3 linked regions of the Homo sapiens genome follow. The protein of the gene in region 2 purifies or fractionates together with the protein of the main gene of each other region. This does not show direct contact. Each region holds a gene or a part of one and is shown on either strand. Other genes may lie near its edges. The genes, in order: S100A7, KCNIP2 and ANKRD13A.

What was found.
Region 1: the proteins of KCNIP2 (region 2) and S100A7 purify together in Homo sapiens (affinity purification with mass spectrometry; 3 studies listed by BioGRID and IntAct, with this or other methods). This does not show direct contact.
Region 3: the proteins of KCNIP2 (region 2) and ANKRD13A purify together in Homo sapiens (affinity purification with mass spectrometry; 3 studies listed by BioGRID and IntAct, with this or other methods). This does not show direct contact.

What each region holds. Positions count from the first base shown.
Region 1 is NC_000001.11:153,457,566-153,465,138, reverse strand, and holds S100A7 (protein S100-A7), read left to right. Parts: upstream 1-4,487; 5' UTR 4,488-4,531; intron 4,532-6,108; 5' UTR 6,109-6,125; coding exon 6,126-6,266; intron 6,267-7,168; coding exon 7,169-7,333; 3' UTR 7,334-7,395; downstream 7,396-7,573.
Region 2 is NC_000010.11:101,826,795-101,833,898, forward strand, and holds part of KCNIP2 (A-type potassium channel modulatory protein KCNIP2), read right to left. Parts: intron 4,374-7,104; coding exon 4,278-4,373; intron 3,149-4,277; coding exon of another isoform or gene 3,104-3,148; coding exon 3,050-3,103; intron 2,406-3,049; coding exon 2,281-2,405; intron 2,096-2,280; exon of another isoform or gene 1,924-2,095; coding exon of another isoform or gene 1,903-1,923; coding exon 1,833-1,902; exon of another isoform or gene 1,666-1,832; coding exon 1,595-1,665; exon of another isoform or gene 1,465-1,594; coding exon 1,357-1,464; intron 1,200-1,356; coding exon 1,095-1,199; exon of another isoform or gene 1,066-1,094; intron 958-1,065; coding exon 895-957; coding exon of another isoform or gene 847-894; intron 607-846; coding exon 559-606; 3' UTR 477-558; coding exon of another isoform or gene 414-476; 3' UTR 1-413. UniProt on the Homo sapiens protein: Regulatory subunit of Kv4/D (Shal)-type voltage-gated rapidly inactivating A-type potassium channels. Modulates channel density, inactivation kinetics and rate of recovery from inactivation in a calcium-dependent and isoform-specific manner.
Region 3 is NC_000012.12:110,002,353-110,009,456, reverse strand, and holds part of ANKRD13A (ankyrin repeat domain-containing protein 13A), read right to left. Parts: intron 1-7,104. UniProt on the Homo sapiens protein: Ubiquitin-binding protein that specifically recognizes and binds 'Lys-63'-linked ubiquitin. Does not bind 'Lys-48'-linked ubiquitin.

The sequences.
Region 1 (7,573 bases), on a different chromosome or scaffold from region 2:
CCTCCTCAGGTCTTGTGCTGGATGTAAAACCTGTGTTGCCATAGAGCCACCGACTCTCTCTGTGTCTTTCTTTAACCCTTGCCTTCCCTTCAAAACCTAACAGTGGGACCACAGGCTCTGGGCTGCAGCTGGGTGTTCTCATCCTCCAGTGTGGATGGCTCACAGCAGAACTGAGTCCTAATAACCTCTTGTGAATGCTGCAGAACTCTCTCTCTGTCTCTCTGTCCCGCTCCCCCAACTGCTGCACGAGTCCAGAGATGCAGCTGGCCAACACCACCCAGAAGGACCCCAAACAGAACAGCTGGCTGTCTCGGAACATTCCCGTGGCTCCCTCTGCCCTGTCCCTCTCACCGTGGCTCCTGGAAGTGCTCTATGGCCTATTGAAAGGACGCCCCTACAAAGCTTCCCCTGGTTCCCCCACCTGAAAAGTGATTTCTCCTCTTCCAAATTCTCACACACTTTATCTGAACCTTTCTGAAGACACCTGCCTCACTTGCTAGTTTGGCCAATGTTTATGGAGTTCTCTGCACTGGAGGCTGGGGGCACAATATAAGACATGGCTGGGTGGCAGCAAACATAGCATATGTGTGGCCAGGGCTGTCACTGAGACACGCAGGGACATGGGGATGATGTCTCTGCCTGGAGAAGGCTTCACAGAGAAAGTGCCACTGAACTGCCTGGGGACCTGGGGGCTTCCGGGCGCTGTCCGACTCCACTCTCTCACCACCCAGTGGCTCATTGGAGTTCTCTCCTGGGGCCGGAGCATTGCTCAAAGCACGGTCCACTTTCAATCCATCTCCCTGCCACCCTGACACCTGCACACTCAGAACAGAGTCAGCACTCACAGCATAAATGAATGGATAAAATACAGCAAAAAGAACAAATTGCTTTCTGTTCTCTTCCCCCAGCAACTTGAGATCTTCTAGAGACCCAGGAGTATGTTGCTTCTACCTCAGACTGGGGAGAGGGGAGCTCCCCAAAACGATGGAGGAGATGAAGATATCAACCAGCCAAATTCCTGTTCACGACCAGCCTGTTGTGAGCTCTCCTGGGGGATCAGCAGTGGCTGAGAGGTTGGATGTGTGATGGAGTAGGGTGGGTTTATGGAGAGTGTTTGTTCCAGACATGACACAGGGGAAGGGCTCACAGGGTTCAACCTGATGAGCAGGTGCAAAAGATAAGGCCCCTATTAAGGCTAATTTGCTGAGATTTTCATTTTAGCAAAAACAAATGATCAGTTTTTTGGATGTCTCAAATATGTTTGAAATTTATGTGTATTCTCTATGGTTGGGCATGAATTTATGAATGTATGTGTGTATAAATAAATTTAAGTGTGTCCTTCAAATAGTTTATATCAGGAATCAGCAAATTATGGTCTTTAAGCCAAATCCAGCTGGCCACCTGTTTCTGGAGGTTAGTGTTTATTGGACACAGCCATCATCATTCACGGGGACTTGTGTCTGGGGCTGCTTCTGGGCTGTGGCAGCATCTGCCCGCCCTGCTCTGTGCCATTACTGGTGTTTTGTTATCTGATGGCTTTGTGAAGTTCCTGGGCAGACTCTGCCAAAACCTGCCAAGTGATATAAGTTTGTCAGTTTCCATTAATTTCTTTCAGTGTTTGCTTTATATAATTCAAAATTGTGTTCTTATGTGTATAAGGATAGGACTATTATTGCTGGGCCTGGTGGCTCACACCTGTAATCCCAGCACTTTGGGAGGCCAAGGAGGGTGGATTACCTGAGGTCAGGACTTCGAGACCATCCTGGCCAACATGATGAAACCCCATCTTTACTAAAAATACAAAAATTAGCTGGATGTGGTGGCGTGCACCTGTAATCCCAGCTACTCTGGAGGCTGAGGCAGGACAATCGTTTGAACCCAAGAGGAGGAGGTTGCAGTGAGCCAAGATGACACCACTACACTCTAACCTGGGTAACAAGAGCGAAATTCTGTCTCAAAAAAAAGAAAAAGAAAAAAAAAGAATAAGACTACCGCATCTTGGTGACTTGCACACTAATCAATAAGAAATATTCTTCTTTTTCATTTAATCCCTTTTCTTAGAATTCTTTGTTGTCTTGTATTAATATTGTTGTCCCTGATTCCTTTTGTATTACTTTTCCTCTGTTCCTTTTTTCTAAACAGTGATGATACATAACTCAAAATGAATCATAGACCTACATGCAAACACAATGTTACAAAACTCCTAGATGGTAGCATAAGAGGAAATTTGATCATCTTGGTTTTGGTGATGACTTTTAGATGGCAACACCAAGGCACAATCCATGAAAGAAAGAATTCATAAGCTGGACTTCTTTAAAATTTAACATTTCTCTTTGTGAAAGATATTGTCAAGAGAATGAAAAGATAAGCCACAGACTGGGAGAAAATGTTTACAAAAGACATATCAGACTTTGTATGTTATCCAAAACATACAAAGAACTCTTAAAACTCAACGATAAGAACACAAACCAAACAATTAGAAAATGGGCCAAAGACCTTAACAGATATCTCATCAAAGAAGATACAGAAGGTGACAAATAAGCATATCAGAAGATGCTCCACATCATATGTCCTCAAGGAAATGCAAATTAAAACAACAATGAGATACCAGTACACACTTATGAGAATGCCCAAAATCTGGAACACTGGACAACAGCAAATGCTGAAGAAGGATGTGGAGCAACAGGAACTCTCATTCATTGATGGCAGGAACACAAAATAGTACAGCCACTTTGGAAGACAGTTTAGTGCTTTCTTAAAAAACTAAACATACTCTTACCATAGGATCCAGAAATCACACTCCTTGGGATTTACCCAAAAGAAGTGAAAACTTATGTCCACACAAAAACCTGCATACACATATATATGAATATATGGCACAATGGTGAAGTCTGGGCTTTTAATGAAGCCATCCTAAATAGCATGCATTGTACCCACTAAGAAATGTCTCATCCTTCACCCACCGCCTCACCTGCTGCCCTTCACAGTCTCCAGTGTCTATGATTCTACTCTCTACCTCCATCTGTATGCATGATGTAGCTCCCACTTACACATGAGGTTGCACAGTATTTGACTTTCTGAGTAATTTCACTTAAGATAATAGCCTCCAGTTCCATCCATGTTGCCGCAAAAAGCGTGATTTCATTCTTTTTTTATAGCTGAGTAGCATTCCACTGTGTGTGTGTGTATGTATCTTTTGCTGTTAAAAGTAATATTGCCATCACATGGGGAACTGGGAGAGGGAGAAACAGGTCCCCCTGGTTACATAGGTACTGACGAGAAGGAAGTTGAAGAAAGATGATGGGTGGAGAAAATAGGTCCCACCTAGGGAGACATCACATCAGCTCTGTGGAGCCCCAGAGTGCTTAAAGGGCTGGCACTAAATGAACCTGGAACTCTCTTGCACCCTAAAAGGAACATTGCAAGGGGGTAGCAGAAAAAGTCCATTTCAGTGATTCATCATCTCCCTTTCCTCACCATGCCCCAGGGATTCCCATGCCTTCCCAACCCTCTTGCCCCTACCTGGGTCAGCCTTTCCACAGCAGGTTAGGGCACATTATAGCCAAGGGCACAACTCCCAACTCCTACACAGGCTGTTTTGCATAGGAGGAGGAAAAACACTGAAGACTTTCTGGGAAGTTAGTGCCATGGGGCAGGAAAGAACTTTTCCCACTCCCTGCCTCCAGGCTCATTCCATGGGGGGGTCACTCCACCACTCAACCTAGATAGTGAGGCCCCTGACCCCAGTCCCCCCACCTAATTCCAGGGCTTCTGTGAGGGGCTGACCAATGGTTAGCAATGAAGTAACCCTGCTTCCCTCCCTGGACTTTGAGTTCCCATAGGGCAGACCCTGATGTGACCCAAGACCTATAGCACAGGGGATAAGAGTAAGGATTTGATTCAGGCTTTTCTGAGTCCATATAATGATTTGTTGTGTTTACTAGCTGAGTAAACTTGGGAACATCTCAACTTCTCCTTTCCTAAAATAGAGATTGAAGCACCTCTTAGGACTATGAGGGTTGAGGAGGATGCAGGAGCAGCAGGTATCTTGATATCTAGACATTAAAATGCTCAGTCAGCGGTGGGGGTCATAGAACAGGCTGTCATAACAAATGTGTGGAAGGATAAGGGGAGGGAACAAACAAGACCATGCTGCCTTCAGGAGTCTGAAACTCCATCCTCTTTGGGTCCAGAGGCCCAGTGCTCTTTTCTCCCATTTTCTGACCTGCTACTACACATGTACCGCTGCCTTACCCTCAAATCAAGGTTGAGCCAGAGAAGACTCCAGGTGAGGTCTCTGGGGTGGGGTGGGACCTGGTGACCTGGGACACTGGCCAGAAATCCTGAGCACAGCCTCCTGGGTGTGTCCCACCCACCTGATGTGGGGCAAGCCTCCAAGAAACAGATGACAGAGGTGGCCCCAGGCCTCCCAGCCCCTGGGAAGAGCCAGGCTGAGCCTTATAAAGGACTGCTCTTTGTCCAAACACACACATCTCACTCATCCTTCTACTCGTGACGCTTCCCAGCTCTGGTAAGTCTCACCTGCCTCTTTGCGTTTTCTAGAAGTGCCCAGTGCCTGGCCTGCCATGCTGCCTGTAGGAAGGGAAAGGGCTGTGGACAAAGACTCAGAAGCCTGGGTCTAGGCCAGCTCTGCCATTAGCTGGGCTGTGTGACCTTCACTTGACCCCAAAAGCCCACGTCTGTATAACCAGGTGGCTGAACCAGACCTGTCCATTGCTCCTTTGGGATCTCCTGAGGCAACTCCTGTGGAAATGTCCCCAGTGGGACCTGAGCACAGGACCCTCCCTGTCCTCTTCCTCCCTGGATTCATCCTCCTGTTGGGGTCCCGGTTGCTAAATCCCCTCCCCAGCTCCAGCTCCACAGAGGGTGGAGGGCTAGGGGTCCCCTGTGAATGCTTTGGAGGCTCTCCAAACCCCCAGGCCTGGGACCCCGACACAGCATAGCCCTGGCCAGATGGCTTGCCCCTACCTGGGTAAGGTATTGAGAAACCAACGCTCCGTCACTCCCTACCACAACCTGCAAATTGTCAGTCACCCTCTGGGCACAGGGCTTGCCCTCTGGCCTTGGCCTCAGATTCAAAAAAGCTCTGGGTGGCTCCTCTTAGTCAGTTGCCGGCATGGAGCTTTCTCCTGCATTGAGAGGTGTTGGGGGTTTATTGTCAGACACCCATATGCATTAGCCAAGGTCCTTTCCTGGTTCTTTGGAAAGTGTGGGAAGTGAGAACTGCACTGTCCTATTTTTCAGGCTTGGGGTGCAGGCCAGCCCAGACTGACTACTGGCTGAAAGATCTGCTTTGGGAAGTCAGACATTTTTATTTAAACAGTCAAGGCTTGGTGATTCAGAGGGTGCAGATAATTCCCAAGAGCAGACATGAAGTGACTCCCACCTCACTCCCACCCCGTCCAGCAGCTTAAGAACCAGAGAGTTATTTCTGTTCCTTGTAACAGAGGCCATTCCTGTTTCTCGTTCCCAAGGGAATACAAGAAGGGCCCCCTGTGCTCGGGACAGGACTGTGTTTCCTGCTAACACTCACGTCCACGCTCACATGTGCACCTGGAGCCTGCACACACCGTGTCATGCAGGGCTTGCACTTGAGTCAAGGTGGGGCCCACGGTGTCTGGTTCCTGAAGCAGCCGAGGAGGGTCAGACACCAGATCACCAAGGCCATTGTCCTGCCCCCATGACTGTCACCCCGACTGTGAAGCTGGAGGAGATGGATTTGGTGCTCTTTTAAGAGTGGGGTCTGCCATGTGCTGGCTGAGGCTGGGGTGTCCCAGCTTAGTTCTTCCATGTGTTGCTGGCGCCCGACTCTCCCTGCTTCTCCCTCTCTGAAGCACTGTCCACAGCTGGACTTCCGCCATCCACCTGCATCTCCTCTTGGCCCTGGCCAGGATGGGCCAGGTCTCAGACTTGGTCCTACCCTCTCATTTTTGAGCAACTTATCCCATCACATTAAAAAAAAATTGAGTTCGTTCTGCTACACCTTATCCGTGTTTTTACTCTGTCCTCAGCCCTCCTTCCAGCACTCCCAAATAGAGACCCTAACTTAAATGAAGGGAAAAAAATGATTGTCTTTATTTCCTGAAGGCTTTTTGAAAGCAAAGATGAGCAACACTCAAGCTGAGAGGTCCATAATAGGCATGATCGACATGTTTCACAAATACACCAGACGTGATGACAAGATTGAGAAGCCAAGCCTGCTGACGATGATGAAGGAGAACTTCCCCAACTTCCTTAGTGCCTGTGTGAGTCGGTGTCTAGCTTCTCAATGTTGGAGGATACATTTTGCTATGTGGCCTTGGACAGATCACCCTCACCCTCTGATTAAAAAATTTCCCATTTGCAAATAGGGCTTTATTACTTGGATCATATGTGAATCTAAGGATGGTAGGCAAAAAAGTATGAAAATGGGAAAGAGTTATACAGATATAAAGGAGGTTATTAGATGGTCAGCAAAGTGTGCAGCTTGAGGGCAGTGCACAGTCCCCTCCCAGCACTCACTGACCCTCTCTCTGTGAGACTGAAACTCACATGCTCAGGTCCTGTTTCCCAAAGGCCCCACATCAACATCCCTGAGATTACTGGGAAAGCACTAGAAGTTCCATTGTTAGTAGAAATCAATAGCCCTCTTTGCAATAAACAAGACTCATTAGCAAATCTGAAAAAAAACTGTGGGCTACTAGGTACCAAAGGGTCTAGATGACCAAGAGTAGGATACCCAGAAGATGAGTTTGGTGGAAAAGGAGAAGAAAGGAGAGGAGGCCAGAGAAAGAAGAGAACAAAAGCATGAGGGCCAATTTTGAGGCCCTGGGGTAGAACTAAGGTAGGCAGTGCCCTTAGAGGCTGGGACGGGAAAGAGTGAGGCTGGGGCAGGGGACTGCTCTCCCCAAGGTCACTTAACAGAGCACCTTGGGACAGGACCTGCCTCCCATCCTGAGGTGTGAGACAAAAAGACTCCCTAGAGAACTCCAGGGATAACACTCACGTCCTCACCCCAACTTCACCCACTCACCCTGTGCTCTCAGCCCCGCCACCATGCCTGTGCAGATCTAGGTACTTGTCTGTATCTCTGCCTCCTCCTCTCCCTCCCAGCCCAAAACTTGTTTGTGATTGAATTTTTCTATTTTGTATGTTTTTCTCTTCACAGGACAAAAAGGGCACAAATTACCTCGCCGATGTCTTTGAGAAAAAGGACAAGAATGAGGATAAGAAGATTGATTTTTCTGAGTTTCTGTCCTTGCTGGGAGACATAGCCACAGACTACCACAAGCAGAGCCATGGAGCAGCGCCCTGTTCCGGGGGCAGCCAGTGACCCAGCCCCACCAATGGGCCTCCAGAGACCCCAGGAACAATAAAATGTCTTCTCCCACCAGACACTTGCCTTATTTTCTTCTTCTCTTTGGTGACCTACGTTGTCAAAACTACCAATTCCAGGTTAACTTTGTTGGAGAATTTCCCCCACCCCCATCCAGTGGGTCACCCAGGAGTAATGTCCCTCCAGCAACGTTCCCCCTATGGCCTCCAGCAGAGCTGAGCTGCCTCTCACACAGGT
Region 2 (7,104 bases):
AATCATAATCTGTCCAGGCCCTTCTATTCTCAACCCCAGCCACCTCCTAGGACCTATCCATTGACTCAGGCCCAAGATTTCTCCCTATACATTCTTGTCCCCCTCCCACAGGGCTCTCAATGGCTGGTCTGAGAAGCCAGCCAGTGCCAAGAATGGAGCATTCTCTCTGAGAGGGGAGTCTTAGGGGAAATGTTTATGAGGTCAGGGATGGGGGAAGCACCATAGCAGGAGACATCTGTCTAGTGTGTTTCTAGAGTAGGGGTAGGAGGTGGGGAACCGCTCAATTCCTACAGGAGGGGCACTCTCAACACTGGGTGTCAGGCAGGAAGGGGGTGAGAGCTGGTGGGAGTTGGGAACACCCCCCGAGATGCACTCTGCCCACTCTCTGGCCCCTTCAGCTCCAGAGATCTGGACTACTGAATCCCCAAGCTCTTGGATCCCTCCAGCCCCCAGGGAGGCGTAGGATGAGGATAGACCTGGGAAGAGAAGGGTGAGGTCCGCCTGGACTAGGGTTAGAGCATGGTCCCCCCAGGAAACACTGACCCCCTCTCCTGGGGGCTAGATGACATTGTCAAAGAGCTGCATGGACCTCATGATGTTCTCATCCTGTGGCCATGATGTGAGCGAGGCAGATTGAAGAGAGAGAAAGAGAAGGAGCTTATCAGAGACAGTGAGAGGGACACTGAGTCACAGACGGGGACATTCAAAAGCACAGAGGAAGGAGATGCCCAGAGAGACCTGAGGTAGGGAAGGGGTAAGCCTCCCACAAAGGAATAGGATTGAAATATGGGGGTGAGGTGGGAAGGTGGTATTCTTCCCAAAGAAGCTTTTCCCTGCATTACTAAATCAGGCCTGAGTCCAGGTCAGGGTAATGTAGAGGGCAGGGAGCTGTACCTTTTGACAAGACTCAATGAATTCCTCAATGGTCACCACACCATCCTTGTTTCTGTCCATCTTCTGCAAGAAGGTGGTCAGGCAGGGAGAACAGGAGGGATGGCAAGAGAGAGGCAGACAGAAGTCAGGTGAGTTCCCTGCTGGTTCTTGGCCTTCTTCCCTTCACTCCAGGGCCCTCCAGCCTACCCACTCCCAAGTACCTGGAAGAAGCTCTCCACGTGTTCCCTTGGGGCCTCCTCCCGGAGTGCAGGGTACGTGTACTTGCCCATCATGTCATAGATGGACTTCATGATGTCAAGCATTTCCTGTTAGGCCAAGAGAGAAGAGGATCCTTCCTCAGAGCCTCCAGCCTCCCTTGATCCCTTGCTTGTGGGCATATGTGGGTCATATTTCCCTCCCATCACCCTCTGCACGCCACCCCCATCACCGCCACAGACCCCCAGCCCTTCAGTTGCCCTGCACCTCCTTGGTGATGCAGCCGTCCTTGTTAAGGTCATACAGGTTGAAGGCCCAATTAAGCCTGTCATCTACAGTTCCCCGAAGAATCACGGACAAACCAGCCACAAAGTCCTGGGAAGGAGGCAGGAGGGAGCTGTGTCCTCGGGTACTCTTCACCCAACTCCTTCTCTGGGTTTGGCCTGGAGATCCTGGCCCTGAACTCCAGGAAACAGGCTTCCCTGGCCCACCTCGCCCAGCTCACCTCAAAACTGACCGAGCCATCATGGTTGGTGTCAAAGGCATTGAAGAGAAAAGTGGCATAGGTGCTGGAGTCTGCAGGGTGAGTGTGGAGAAGTTGGCTTCCACACAGGAGAGGACTTCCTCCCTCTAAGGAGCTCCCCATACCCCCCATCACCTTGGCATTCCCAGCTCCTCCAGAATCCCTCCCTCCCTCAGCCTAGAGAAGGACAACTGCTTCCCCTTGGGCCTTGTCCCCTCACCTCCTTGAGGAAAGAACTGGGAGTAAATCTGCTTGAAGTTCTCCTCATTGACAATTCCGCTGGGACATTCCTGGAAGGAGAGGGCACCAGGCTGAGGGCAGAGACAAAATCCCCTTCCGTTCACCGCCCCCACCCTCCATGGCCCAAGACTCCCAGGGAGGGGGATAATCTTCAAGCCTCCAGAGGACTCACCACGTGGCTCATGTGATGGGAGGGAAGACTTCTTTCCCAGTGCACAAATAAAAAACATGGAACGAAACTGACAGTCTACAGGCGCCACTTCCGTTCTGGCCCCGCCCCAGAACCTCCAGCTAGAAGTTCAGTCTCAGGGCCTTGCCTCCCTTCCGCCCACACCTCAAGCATCCAAGCCATGCTTTCTGGGAAGCTGTGGACCGGCTTGGGTCCTCCTGTCCCACCCTCGCTGAGTTTGGCCTCGCCTTGCACTCACGTTCTTGAAGCCCCGGTACAGGACCTGCAACTCCTTGCGCGTGAATTTGGTTTGCTCCTGCAGCTGCTCCAGACCCTCAGGCCGGTGACACACGGTGGACAATTCAAATTCATCGTCCACGCTGTCTGCGGGAGCGGTGAGGACAGCCGCGCCTCAGGCCCAGCCTCCGCGACCCCTCTTCAAATCACTGCCCCATTCACCCCCTCCCCGCCCCCCGGTCCCATCCGATGCCGGAGACCAGGCTGCCAGTTCCCTGGGCCCCGAGCCAAGGACACTGAGGTAAGGAGAAAAGATGATGGCCATCTTCGAGGTCTATCAGCGGGCCAAGGCCTGGCCTGGCCCCAGAGCCAGGGATCCGACTCAGTGCTCGCCCCGCGGCCCTCGATCCCTCGTTGGAGGGGAAGGCCCCCAGCCGCATCTTCGTTTTAGAAAGGGAGGAGTGGGAAAAGCCAGTTCAAGAGGGGGCGTCTGAGGGTCAGAGCTCCGGGCCTTCGGGGACCAACTCAGATCCGCCCAGCCCCAGCCTTGCCCCGCCCAAACCCTCCCCTCGTCCCACCCAGCCCCTCCCCTCGCCCCGCCCAGCCCCATCTATCCCAGCCATGCCTGAGCCATGCCCCGCCCAGCTCAGCCAACCTCCATCCAGACCCCACCCCCGGCCCCATCTCAATCCTGCCCCGCCCCCAACGTCCAGCCCCCAGGCAAGTGCCCCCCACCCCAAGATGGCAAAGCCGCCCTGCCCCGCCCCGCCCCCACCAGGAGCGTAAGTCACCTGGGTCCAGCAGGCGGGGTCTGTGGGGGCGGAGGGAGGCTGGGGCGGCTAATGCTGAAGGGAGCGAACTGTCACCGAGAAAGCGGAAGACCCGGCCAACTGCAGACACACACCTGGCCCCTCACACTCAGAGCAAACCTCACAACCCAGCCCGTGCAAAGGCACACCCAACCAGCACAGACACACACGAAACGGACCCCATGCACACAAGCTTGCGGGACTCACGCCTGTCCTTTTCCGAATCCACCCCCGTGTGGGACCCATCTAAGTCCAACACAACAGCATGCTCAAATAACTACAAAGCGGGCCTTTATGGTTTGCAAAATGCAGTATGATCCTATGAGGTGGGCAAGGCCCAACTGAGGAAATGGAGACCTAGAGACAAAGCGAGGTCACTCAACTGGAGATCACTCAGCAGGGGACCAGGCTGGCACAGAAAACCCAAATACCCTGGCGTCTGGAGGAGGGCAGGCGCCATCCTCTACACCTGTCACCATCCTGTCGGGGCATAGGCAACACACATCAGGGGTCCAAAACACGGTGGGGAAGGGGGCGGCCGCACGGAGTTGAAGACACTAACCCAGCTAAGCCACATACAGACCCTCACGGCCGCCTGGTCTACACAGGCCGCCACAGCTACACAGGCTCAGGCCTCAGCCTGGTCACAATGGTCACACCCACACTCTCGGGTCCCACAGTTTTGCGGGAGCGGTGACACACACCCGCTCCCAACTGACCACGCCCACACACGCTGGCTTCAGCCGCACACGCACACAGTAGCCACGCCCCCTTATGCTCCAGCCTTGCCAGCACCCGCCCTCGCCACGCTGGTCACGCCCACACACACACACACACACACACACACACGCACGCAGGCCTGGGGCACGCCCCTCCCCCACACGCAGGCGTGCGGCACGCCTCCCCATACACACACACACGCGCGCGGGCCTGGGGCACGCCCTCCACACACATGCAGGGGTAGGGCACGCCCCCCCACACACACACGCCGGCCTGGGGCACGCTCGCGCGCACATGCACACACATACACACGCACAGGCCTGGGGCAGGCCCCACCCCCACACACGCAGGCCTGGGGCACGCCCCCCCACACATGCAGGCCTGGAGCATGCGCACACTCGCAGGCCTGGGGCACACGCGCACACACTCATGCACAGACACGCACGCACACATCGAGCCCCGCCCCCGGAAGCACATGAGAGGCACTTGCTTTCACTGACTGAGGGCAGGGCTTGGGGCCCGCAGCACGGCAGCAGCTTGAGGAATCGCTGCTTCAGCGCTTTTTTAGTGGGCCCTGGAGGGTGGCCTGGGAAGAGAGAAGACCCCAGGAAGGCACATTAACTCCCATTGTCCCTCTGTTCCCTGTCCCCTCCCCGCCAGTCACAAATCAACCCCATCTGGGGACCGGGCTGGGGGAGGAATTAAGGGGAGGAAAGGAATGGCAAGGGTGGTTGGAATCGGGTTAGGGGAGCCCAGTGAGTCCATAGAGGTGAGGCTCAGGCACTTGGTTTAATGGGACGTGGCCGGTGACAGCGAGGCGGCAAGGATGAGGTGGCAGTGGCCTCAGTGTCTTTGCTGACCTAGTACCCTTGGCTCAAGTGCCATGGCTGGACCTCTCAGGATGATGTCCAACCCAAGGATTGCCTGGGTAAGAACACCTCTCTCATACACACACCTACAGTGACAGGCGTGTATAGTGACATGTAGAACAATACATCACAGTGATGGGTGCCAGTGACAGCTTGATATCCAGTAACTCACACCTGATGGCGTAATATGCATGCTCACACACACACACACAATGACCTGCTAACTCCTTAACACAAACATATACAAATGTGACCTAAGTAAAACAGGATGCATACACATGGAGACCCATATAGGCCATCTCACACACAGCATGATCAAACCACACAAGAACACACAATGCCTCTGGGACATCATGACATGTGAGTCTACAAAGAACACTATGACATTGTGACCTTATAACATTATGAGACATATCAAGGTTGTCATGACACATATCCATATCATACTGTGACCTGGGTCCCCATGGCACCCAGATATCTAAGGCTGTACCTCAATACCTCACCCACAGAGGCTTCATTTTTCCTGGGTACACCCACTTTTCTTTCCTGTAACCCCTCCTCATTCCAAGGTGCCCAGAATCTTTCTGCCAAAGGGCAGGGTTCCTCATCAGCTAACTCATCTACCCTAAACTGTGGCCCCTTCACAGTCTCTTCCAGTATGGCTTGCTCTTTGAGGGTGAAATAATAGTAAACTTTGTGGCAATAAGAGATCTTGGAGGCGAGTATTCTGGTGTATTGTGGGGCTATCCATGGCCCACTGATCATGGCTCCCCTTCCCCTCTTCTCCCTTATTTCTGCACATGCTCTACAGCTCTAATTGCACCCCCAGAGGACCCTCAGTGTTACTGTGTGTGTGTGTGTGTGTGTGTGTGTGTGTGTGTGTGTGTGTGTCTGTGTCTCCCAGCTGCACTGCATCCAGATTCCTGGATCAGATCCCACTGGATCTGACACAGTGACTAAAGTTGGCCTCAGTCCATTCCTGGAGGGGTCCAACTTCCTTTAGTTAAAGGTTACTCCCCCTCCATATACCCCACCCTCCCAATCCAGGCTTCACCCTCCAGATCAGGCCCTGTTCTCAGGAGGTGACTGGGTGAGTAACCACCTCCTCTCCTTCAACACATCCTTACCTCCCTCCCACCCCAGGAGCCATGGAGAGGTGGGAGGGAGGCAGTGGGCCAGGCAGGGGGATCGATGGCATTCCTGGCCTCTGGCCCAGGGCTCCATTAGCCTGGACTCTAGTTTCCCAAAGCTGGATTGCGCCTGGGGCCTCCAATGGTGTAGTTGCCCGACTCGGGGGTGGCTCTCCTGCCCCCCACCCCAGCCCCCTACCTGCTTCTAAGCCTCTGTCTCCTCTAAAGGTGAGAACAGAATGGCTGCCTTCAGCCCAAGACTCCTGGGATTTCCAGATGCCCTCTCTTCCCCCTTTCCCATCTAAAAGGAATGGCAAGTTAGAGCTCAATCAACTTCACCTTTTCCAGATTGAATGAGAACAAGCTCAGCCCAGCTGTCCCAGTTTATCTAGGTCCAACTCCCTGTTCCCCACTCCACCCCAATAAATGCAGCAGAGGATGGAGGGTGAGCTAGGAGTTTTCTGCTCTTACTGAACCCTAGAGCAGGCAATTCATGCACCTTCCTCTTGTTCCCAGTTTCCTTCATATTTTTCCAGTTCTTCCAGGTATCTACCCTGCAGTCCTCCATCATGGTTCTAGTCTGTCTTCCTGTCCCTGGTGGTACTGGGGAACAGCCATGCTACGGAGTTACACAGTTCTAGCCGTGAAGAGGAGGGAGAGGTCAAAACTCCCAAGGGGGAGGCAGAAGTGCTCCCCACTCCACCCCAATATTACTCTCCCTACTGACTTTGGGGTGGGCTGGGGAGGGGAGTTGATTTTCCACTCCCAATGTCTAGGCCCTGGAGATCACTCTGCACTTGGATCCTGATAGGAGCTTGGAGAGGCAAGGGGACTTGGGAAGCAGGGTCCCTGATCTGATCCACTCCTCATCCCCAATCATAGCTGGGCTATAAATGTCTCCTTCACAATGTTCACACTCTTCCCTCCAGAACCCACCTCCTCCCAAGCCTTGGGTATGGAGCTGGTATATCCTCAGGAAATTCTGGAAACAGCCACATGCACAACCTGATACCCAGAGGCTCAGCCACATACTGTGCCACTCAGGCCTGGCCACATCCACCTTCTCACAAAGCCACATGCCCTGTCACTCTCACACATACAGTCATATCCCTGTCCCATACACAGGCTCACAGTTACACACTTTGTACTCTCTCACATACAGGAACACAAAGTCACACCCTGTGTCTCTCACACACTATGCCCACACACCCCATAAGCTACACTGCACAGATGGAGGTGTGGAGAGGATGCACAGGCACCGTGGTGGGCCCCTGACTCCAAAAAGGACCCCCCAGAAATCCGTTGTTATCTCAGGATC
Region 3 (7,104 bases), on a different chromosome or scaffold from region 2:
CTTACTAAAATCAGGAATTAAAGATGGAATATTAGCAACTCTACAGAAATAAAAAGGATTATAAAAGAAAACTATGGGCCGGGTGCAGTGGCTCATGCCTGTAATCCCAACACTTTGAGAGGCCGAGGCGGGTGGATCACTAGAGGTCGGGAGTTCGAGACCAGCCTGACCAACATGGAGAAACCCCGTCTCTACTAAAAATACAAAATTAGCCGCGCGTGGTGGCACATGCCTGTAGCCCCAGCTACTCAGGAGGCTGAGGCAGGAGAATTGCTTGAACCCGGAAGGCGGAGGTTGTGGTGAGCCGAGATTGTGCCATTGCACTCCAGCCTGGGCAACAAGAGTAAAACTTCGTCTCAAAAAATAAAATAAAATAAAAGAAGACTATGAACAACTGTATGCCAACAAATTAGACAACTTAGATGAACAAGATAAATCCCTACAGAAATGCAAACTAGCAAAACTGACTCAAAAAGAAACCAAAAATCTGAATAAGTTTATAACAAGAGATTGAATTAGTAATTTTAAAACTGCCCACCAAAAAAAATGCAGGCCCAGATGGGTTTTTTTTCCAGACTGAGTCTCGCTCTGTCGCCCAGGCTGGAGTATAGTGGCACAATCTCAGCTCACTGCAACCTCCACCTCCCAGGTTCAAGTGATTCTTGTGCCTCAGCCTCCTGAGTAGCTGGGATTACAGGTGCCCACCACCACACCTGGCTAATTTATGTACTTTTAGTAAAATTGGGGTTTTGCCATGTTGGCCAGGCTGGTCTTGAACTCCTAACCTCATGTGATCTGCCCACCTCAGCCTCCCAAAGTGCTGGGATTACAGGCACGAGCCACCATGCCTGGACTTCACTGGTGAATGCTATTAAACATTTAAAGAATTAATACCAATGTTTCACAAACTTTTCCAATAAATAGATGAAGAAGGAAAACTTTCCAATTCATTTTATGAACCCACTATTATCCTGATGACAAATGCGTCACAAGAAAAGAAAACCACACACTAATATCTCTTATGATATAGATGCAAAAATCCTCCACGATATACTGGCAAACTAAATTCAGCAACATATAAAAAGGGTATTATACACTATGACCAACTGAGACTTATCCTACAAATATAAGAATGGTATAACTTCAGATAGTCAATTAACGTATTACACCATATCATAGGATAAAACAAAATACATGATCATCTCAACAGCTGCAGCAAAAACATCTGACAAAACTCCAACATCCCTTCATGATTAAAAGAAAAAAACCAAAACTCTCAACATACTAGGAATAAAAGGAAACTTCCTCAAAAAGCATCTCTAAAAAACCCACAACTAACATCATAGTTAATGGTGAAAGACTGGATGTTTCCCCTCTAAGATGAGGAACAAGATGAGGATGTCCTCTTTCACCATATCTAGTCAACATTGTACTAGAGATTCTAGTCATGGCAACTGGGCAAGAAAAATAAATAAAAAGCATCCAGAATGGAAAGGAAGATGACATGATCTTGTGTATAAAATCCTAAGGAATCCACCAAAAAACTATTAGAACTATTAAATGAGTTCAGCAAGGTTTCAGGACACAAGATCAATAACTAATCAATTATATTTCTACATACTTGTAATGAGCAACTCAAAAATGAAATTAAGACAACAATTCCATCTATAATAGCATCAAAAAATAAAACATTTAGGAATAAATATGACACAATAAATATAAAACTTACATACTCTTAAACCATAAAACATTGTTTAAAAAAAATTAAAGAAGAACTGGCCTGGTGTGGTGGCTCACACCTGTAATCCCAGCACTTGGGGAGGCTGAGGTGGGCGGATCACCTGAGGTCGGGAGTTCGAGACCAGCCTGACCAACATGGAGAAACCCCACCTCTACTAAAAATACAAAATTAGCCGGGCGTGGTGGCACATGTCTGTAATCCCAGCTACTTGGGAGGCTGAGGCAGGAGAATCGCTTGAACCTGGGAGACGGAGGTTGCAGTGAGCCAAGATTGTGCCATTGAACTCCAGCCTGGGCAACAATAGTAAAAACTCCATCTCAAAAAACAAACAAACAAAAAAAACCTCAAAAAATTAAAGAAGACCTAAATAAATTGAAAAACATCCTTATGCTCATGGTTTAAAAGACAATATTGTTAAAATGACAAAACTCTCCAAACTGAGGTATAGATTCAATTCAACTCCTATCAAAATCTCAGCTGGCTTTTTGCTGACATTGACAAGCTGATCTTAGAATTCATGTGGAAATGCAAGAAACCTAGAATAGCCACCTTGAAGAGAGAGGTCTGAGGACTCACATTTCACGCTTGCCAATTTTAAAACGTACTACACAAAGCTACAGCAATCAAGACAACGTGGTACTGGCATAAGGACAGACATACAGGTCAATGGAATACAATTTAGAGTCCAGAAATAAACCCACACATTTATGGTCAATTGATTTTCAACAAGGGTGCCAAAATAATTCATTGGGAAAGAACTGTCCTTTCAACAAGTGCCGCTTGAACAACTGCATATCTACATGCAAAAGAACAAAATTTTGGCTGAGCTCATTGGCTCATCCCTATAATCCCAGCACTTTGGGAGGCCAAGGCGGGAGGATCACCTGAGGTAGGGAGTTCGAGATCAGCCTGATCAACATGGAGAAACTCCATCTCTACTAAAAATACAAAATTAGCCAGGCATGGTGGCGCATGCCTGTAATCCCAGCTACTCGGGAGGCTGAGGCAGGAAAATTGCTTGAACCTGGGAGGCGGAGGTTGTGGTAAGCCGAGATCACACCATTGCACTCCAGCCTAGGCAACAAGAGCGAAACTCCATCTCAAAAAAAAAAAGACAACCCATGGAATGGGAGAAAATATTTGCAAATCACATACTGATAAGGGCCTACTATCCAGAATATGCAAAGAACCTTTACAACTCAACAAGTCAAATAACTCAATTTTTAAATGGGCAAAGGATTTGAGATGACATTTCTCCAAGGAAGATACACAAATTGCCAATAAGCACATGAAAAGATGCTCAACATCATTAATCATAAGAGAAATGCGAATCAAAACCACAATGAGATGCCACTTCACACCCACTAGGATGCGTACAAACAAAACAACAGATAATACCAAGTGTTGACAAGGATGTGAAGAAACTGGAATCTCATACACTGCTGGTGGAAATGTAAAATAGTGCAGCCACTTCGAAAAATTGCTGGCAGTTCCGCAAAAAGTTAAAACATAGAGTAACTACATGACCCAGCAATTCCTCTCCAAGGTATATACCCAAGATAAATGAAAACATATACCCATACAAAAACTTATACATGGGGCTGGGTGCAGTGGCTCATGCCTGTAATCCCAGAACTTTGGGAGGCCAAGGTGGGCTGATCACTTGAGGTCAGGAGTTCAAGACCAGCCTGGCCAACATGGTGAAACCCCATCTCTACTAAAAATACAAAAATTAGCCAGGCGTGGTGGTGCACACCTGTAATCCCAGCTACTAGGGAGGCTGAGACAGGAGAATCGCTTAAACCCAGGAGGCAGAGGTTGCAGAGAGCTGAGATCATGCCACTGCACTCCAGCCTGGGCAACAAAGCAAGCTGTCTCAAAAAAAAGGAAACCCACAAAAACATATACACAAATACACACAGCAGCGTTACTCATAATAGCCAAAAAGTGGCGACAACCCAAATGTCCATCAACTGACAAACGGAGAAACATTTTCGTCTAACAAACAAAACATAGTACATCCATGCAATGGAATATATTCAGTGATAAAAAGGAATTAAGCACCTGAAACATGCCACAACGTAGATGAACCTCCAAAACATTATGCTAAGTAAAAGAAGAAACAAAAGGCCACATATGATTCTATTTATATGAAATGTCCAGAATAGGCAAATCTAGAGACAGGAAGTAGGTTAGCAGGTTGCCTGGGCTGGAGGGGTTGGGGAGAAATGAGGAGTGACTACTACAGGTATGGGGTTTCTTTTTCGGGTGAGGAAAATATTACAGGGTGGGTGCAGTGGCTAACACCTGTAATCTTAGCACTTTGGCAGGCCAAGGCAGGAGGACTGCTTGAGCCCAGTCTGGGCAACATAGGGACACATTTTCTCTACAAAAAAATCTTTAAAAATTAGCCAAGCGTGGTAGTGCTTGCTTGCAGTCCTAGCTATTTGGGAGGCTGAGGTGGGAGGATTGCTTAAGCCGAGAAGGTCAAGGGTGCAGTGAGCTGTGATGGTGCCAGCCTAGGCAAGAGAGTGAGACCCTGTCTCAAAAACAACAAAAAAACAAAAAAGAAAGAAAAAGAAAAAAATTTCTGAAATTTGACAGTAGTGATAGTTGCATAACTCAGCAGATATACTAAAAACCATTGAATAACCTTTAAATGTAGATTATATAAGTGAACTATATCGCAATAAAAATCTTTTGAAAAAATCAATCTGTATATGTTTATACATAATACATAAAACGAATCTCTCATGTACTGTTTGACAAGTTGCTTAATTCCTCCTGAGCTTCAGTTTGCTCGCTTGTAAAACTGAACAATAAAAAAAACCTACCTTACAGTTCTTACAAGGGGAAAGTCCTTAACTTAGCACGGTGCTTGACACCACAGTAAGTGCTGAGAAGAGTTACCTGTTATTATCATACGCCCACACTATGTAGTTTCATATAGCTGTCACTTTCTCCCTAAAAGGGATTTGCTCAAATTGCATTACAGTTATTAGTGGGGCTTAGAATCTTCAACTAATAATATGAGTTCAGAGAACAAGGAGTTTCAGAATTTAGCTGGAATTCACTTTTTCTTTTGAGACAGAGTCTCCCTCTTGTTGCCCAGGCTGGAGTGCAATGGTGCAATCTTAGCTCACCGAGATCTTGGCTCACTGCAACCTCTGCCTCCCAGGTTCAAGCAATTCTCCTGCCTCAGCCTCCCGGGTAGCTGGGATTACAGGCATGCACCACCACGCCTGGCTAATTTTGTATTTTTAGTAGAGACGGGGTTTCTCTGTGTTGGTCAGGTTGGTCTCGAACTCCCGACCTCAGGTGATCCGCCCACCTCGGCCTCCCAAAGTGCTGGGATTACAGGCCTGAGCCACCACGCCCGGCTGGAATTCACTTTCGAAACTGATCATTTAGGTTTTCCTTTTAAGTTTCTTTAGCCATGAGCTATACCCAAATAAAAATACCCATCCTCCTTTAACTAGGAGTTTCCTTCCTATTTGCTCATTTCAGCTCATCCACTTTTCTTGCTCAAAAGCCTTAAAAAAAATTTATTTTTTTTTTGAGATGGAGTCTCATACTGTTGCCGGGCCTAGAGTGCAATGGTGCGATTTTGGCTCACTGCAACCTCCGCCTCCCAGGTTCAAGCGATTCTCCCACCTCAGCCTCCCAAGTAGCTGGGATTACAAGCACCCGCCACCATGCCCAGCTAATTTTTCATATTTTTAGCAAAGATGGGGTTTCACTATGTTGGCCAGGCTAGTCTTGAACTCCTGACCTCATGATCCACCTGCCTTGGCCTCCCAAAGAGCTGGGAGTACAGGCGTGAGCCACCGTGCCCAGCCAAAAAAAATTTTTTTTTAAGGAGACGGAGTCTTACTATATTGGCCAGGCTGGTCTTGAACTCCTGTCCTCAAGCACTGACCCCACCTCAGCCTCCTCAATCAAAAGCCCTCTTTACTATCTTGCCATCCTCCTGCCGAGCTCTGAGGCCAGGCTGCAGAACCAGACAACTGGACACCCCTTCCAGCTTGCCCACTAGCCTCAGGTGAATTATCAGTTCCCCTGTGCCTTGGTACCTGGCATGCAGGAAGTGCTTCATAAACTCACTGTCACCTTTAGGGGGACTCCAGCAAGAGGCTGCTGGCTAGTCCTCCTCTCTCTCAACACAGACAACCACCCTCACTCCTCTTCACTCTCAGACCATCCTGGTCCTGTGTGGCCCCCACGCTGAGTCAGTGGAAACAGGAATCTTGAGGCCAGTTTCCTAAGGTGAGCTTGAACCCCCGATGACCAAGGGGGCACATGAGGAGAGCAGGCTCTAGGCTCTTCATCTTGGATGCCTAGCCCATGGCTCAGCGATTTGAATCTGTGCCCGGGGCCTCACCTGGCCTGCCCCAGGCTGGAGTGAGAACCCCAGGAATGTCCTCCTCTTACCTAGGTGCTATACTTTTCACCTGCTGGCTTCCTAAACAGGGAGCCTGGCTCTAGAGTCAGGCCTCATTTGCCACCCTCCACCTCACACAACCCAGGTTTTCCAACCCTGTCTAAGGTACACTGACTCACCTTTGCATCTGTCCCCTTAAGTGTTCATGTCTCACCATCAGTAAGAAGGCCAAAGAAGTTTAACAGACTTCTTTAGCTAAGCGGCCAACGACATAAGCAGAACACAAACAGTTTCAACTTCAGCAACCAACTTCAAGGCCCCACTGAATATTAATGAGCTGATGGGTTAAGAGGCACTTTATTAAATGCCTCTGCTGATCAAATGAAGGCCTGAAACAATCTGGTAGTTGGCATAGTTACACAACTGCCTGCTATTAGTGAGACAGTGGGATTGGGGCTGGCTCACACACACAGAAACACGTGCTTATCCTCTTCATCTGGATAAACTTGATTCTTTCTTGTGTTGCTGTTCCTGGAACAGGAACAAAAAACCTGGAAAAAAATTCTTACAGCTATCAGTATACATGCTCCAAGTCTCAATCAGGTGATAGACGGAATGAGGAAACTGACAGCAGAAACTCACCAGCAAACAAAACATTAAGGGAAACAGCCACTTTATTGCTGGGGTGATAAGAATTTTTTGGGTTTTTTTTGTTTTTTGAGTCGGAGCCTCGCTCTGTCTCCCAGCCTGGAGTGCAGTGGCACGATCTTGGCTCACTGCAACCTCAGCCTCCTGGATTCAAGCGATTCTCCTGCCTCAACCTCCTGAGTAGCTGGGATTACAAGCACGTGCCACCACATCCAGCTATTTTTGTATTTTTAGTAGAGACGGGGTTTCACCGTGTTGGTCAGGCTGGTCTCCAACTCCTGACCTCAGGCGATCTGCCTGCCTCAGCCTCCCAAAGTGCTGAGATTCCAGGCAT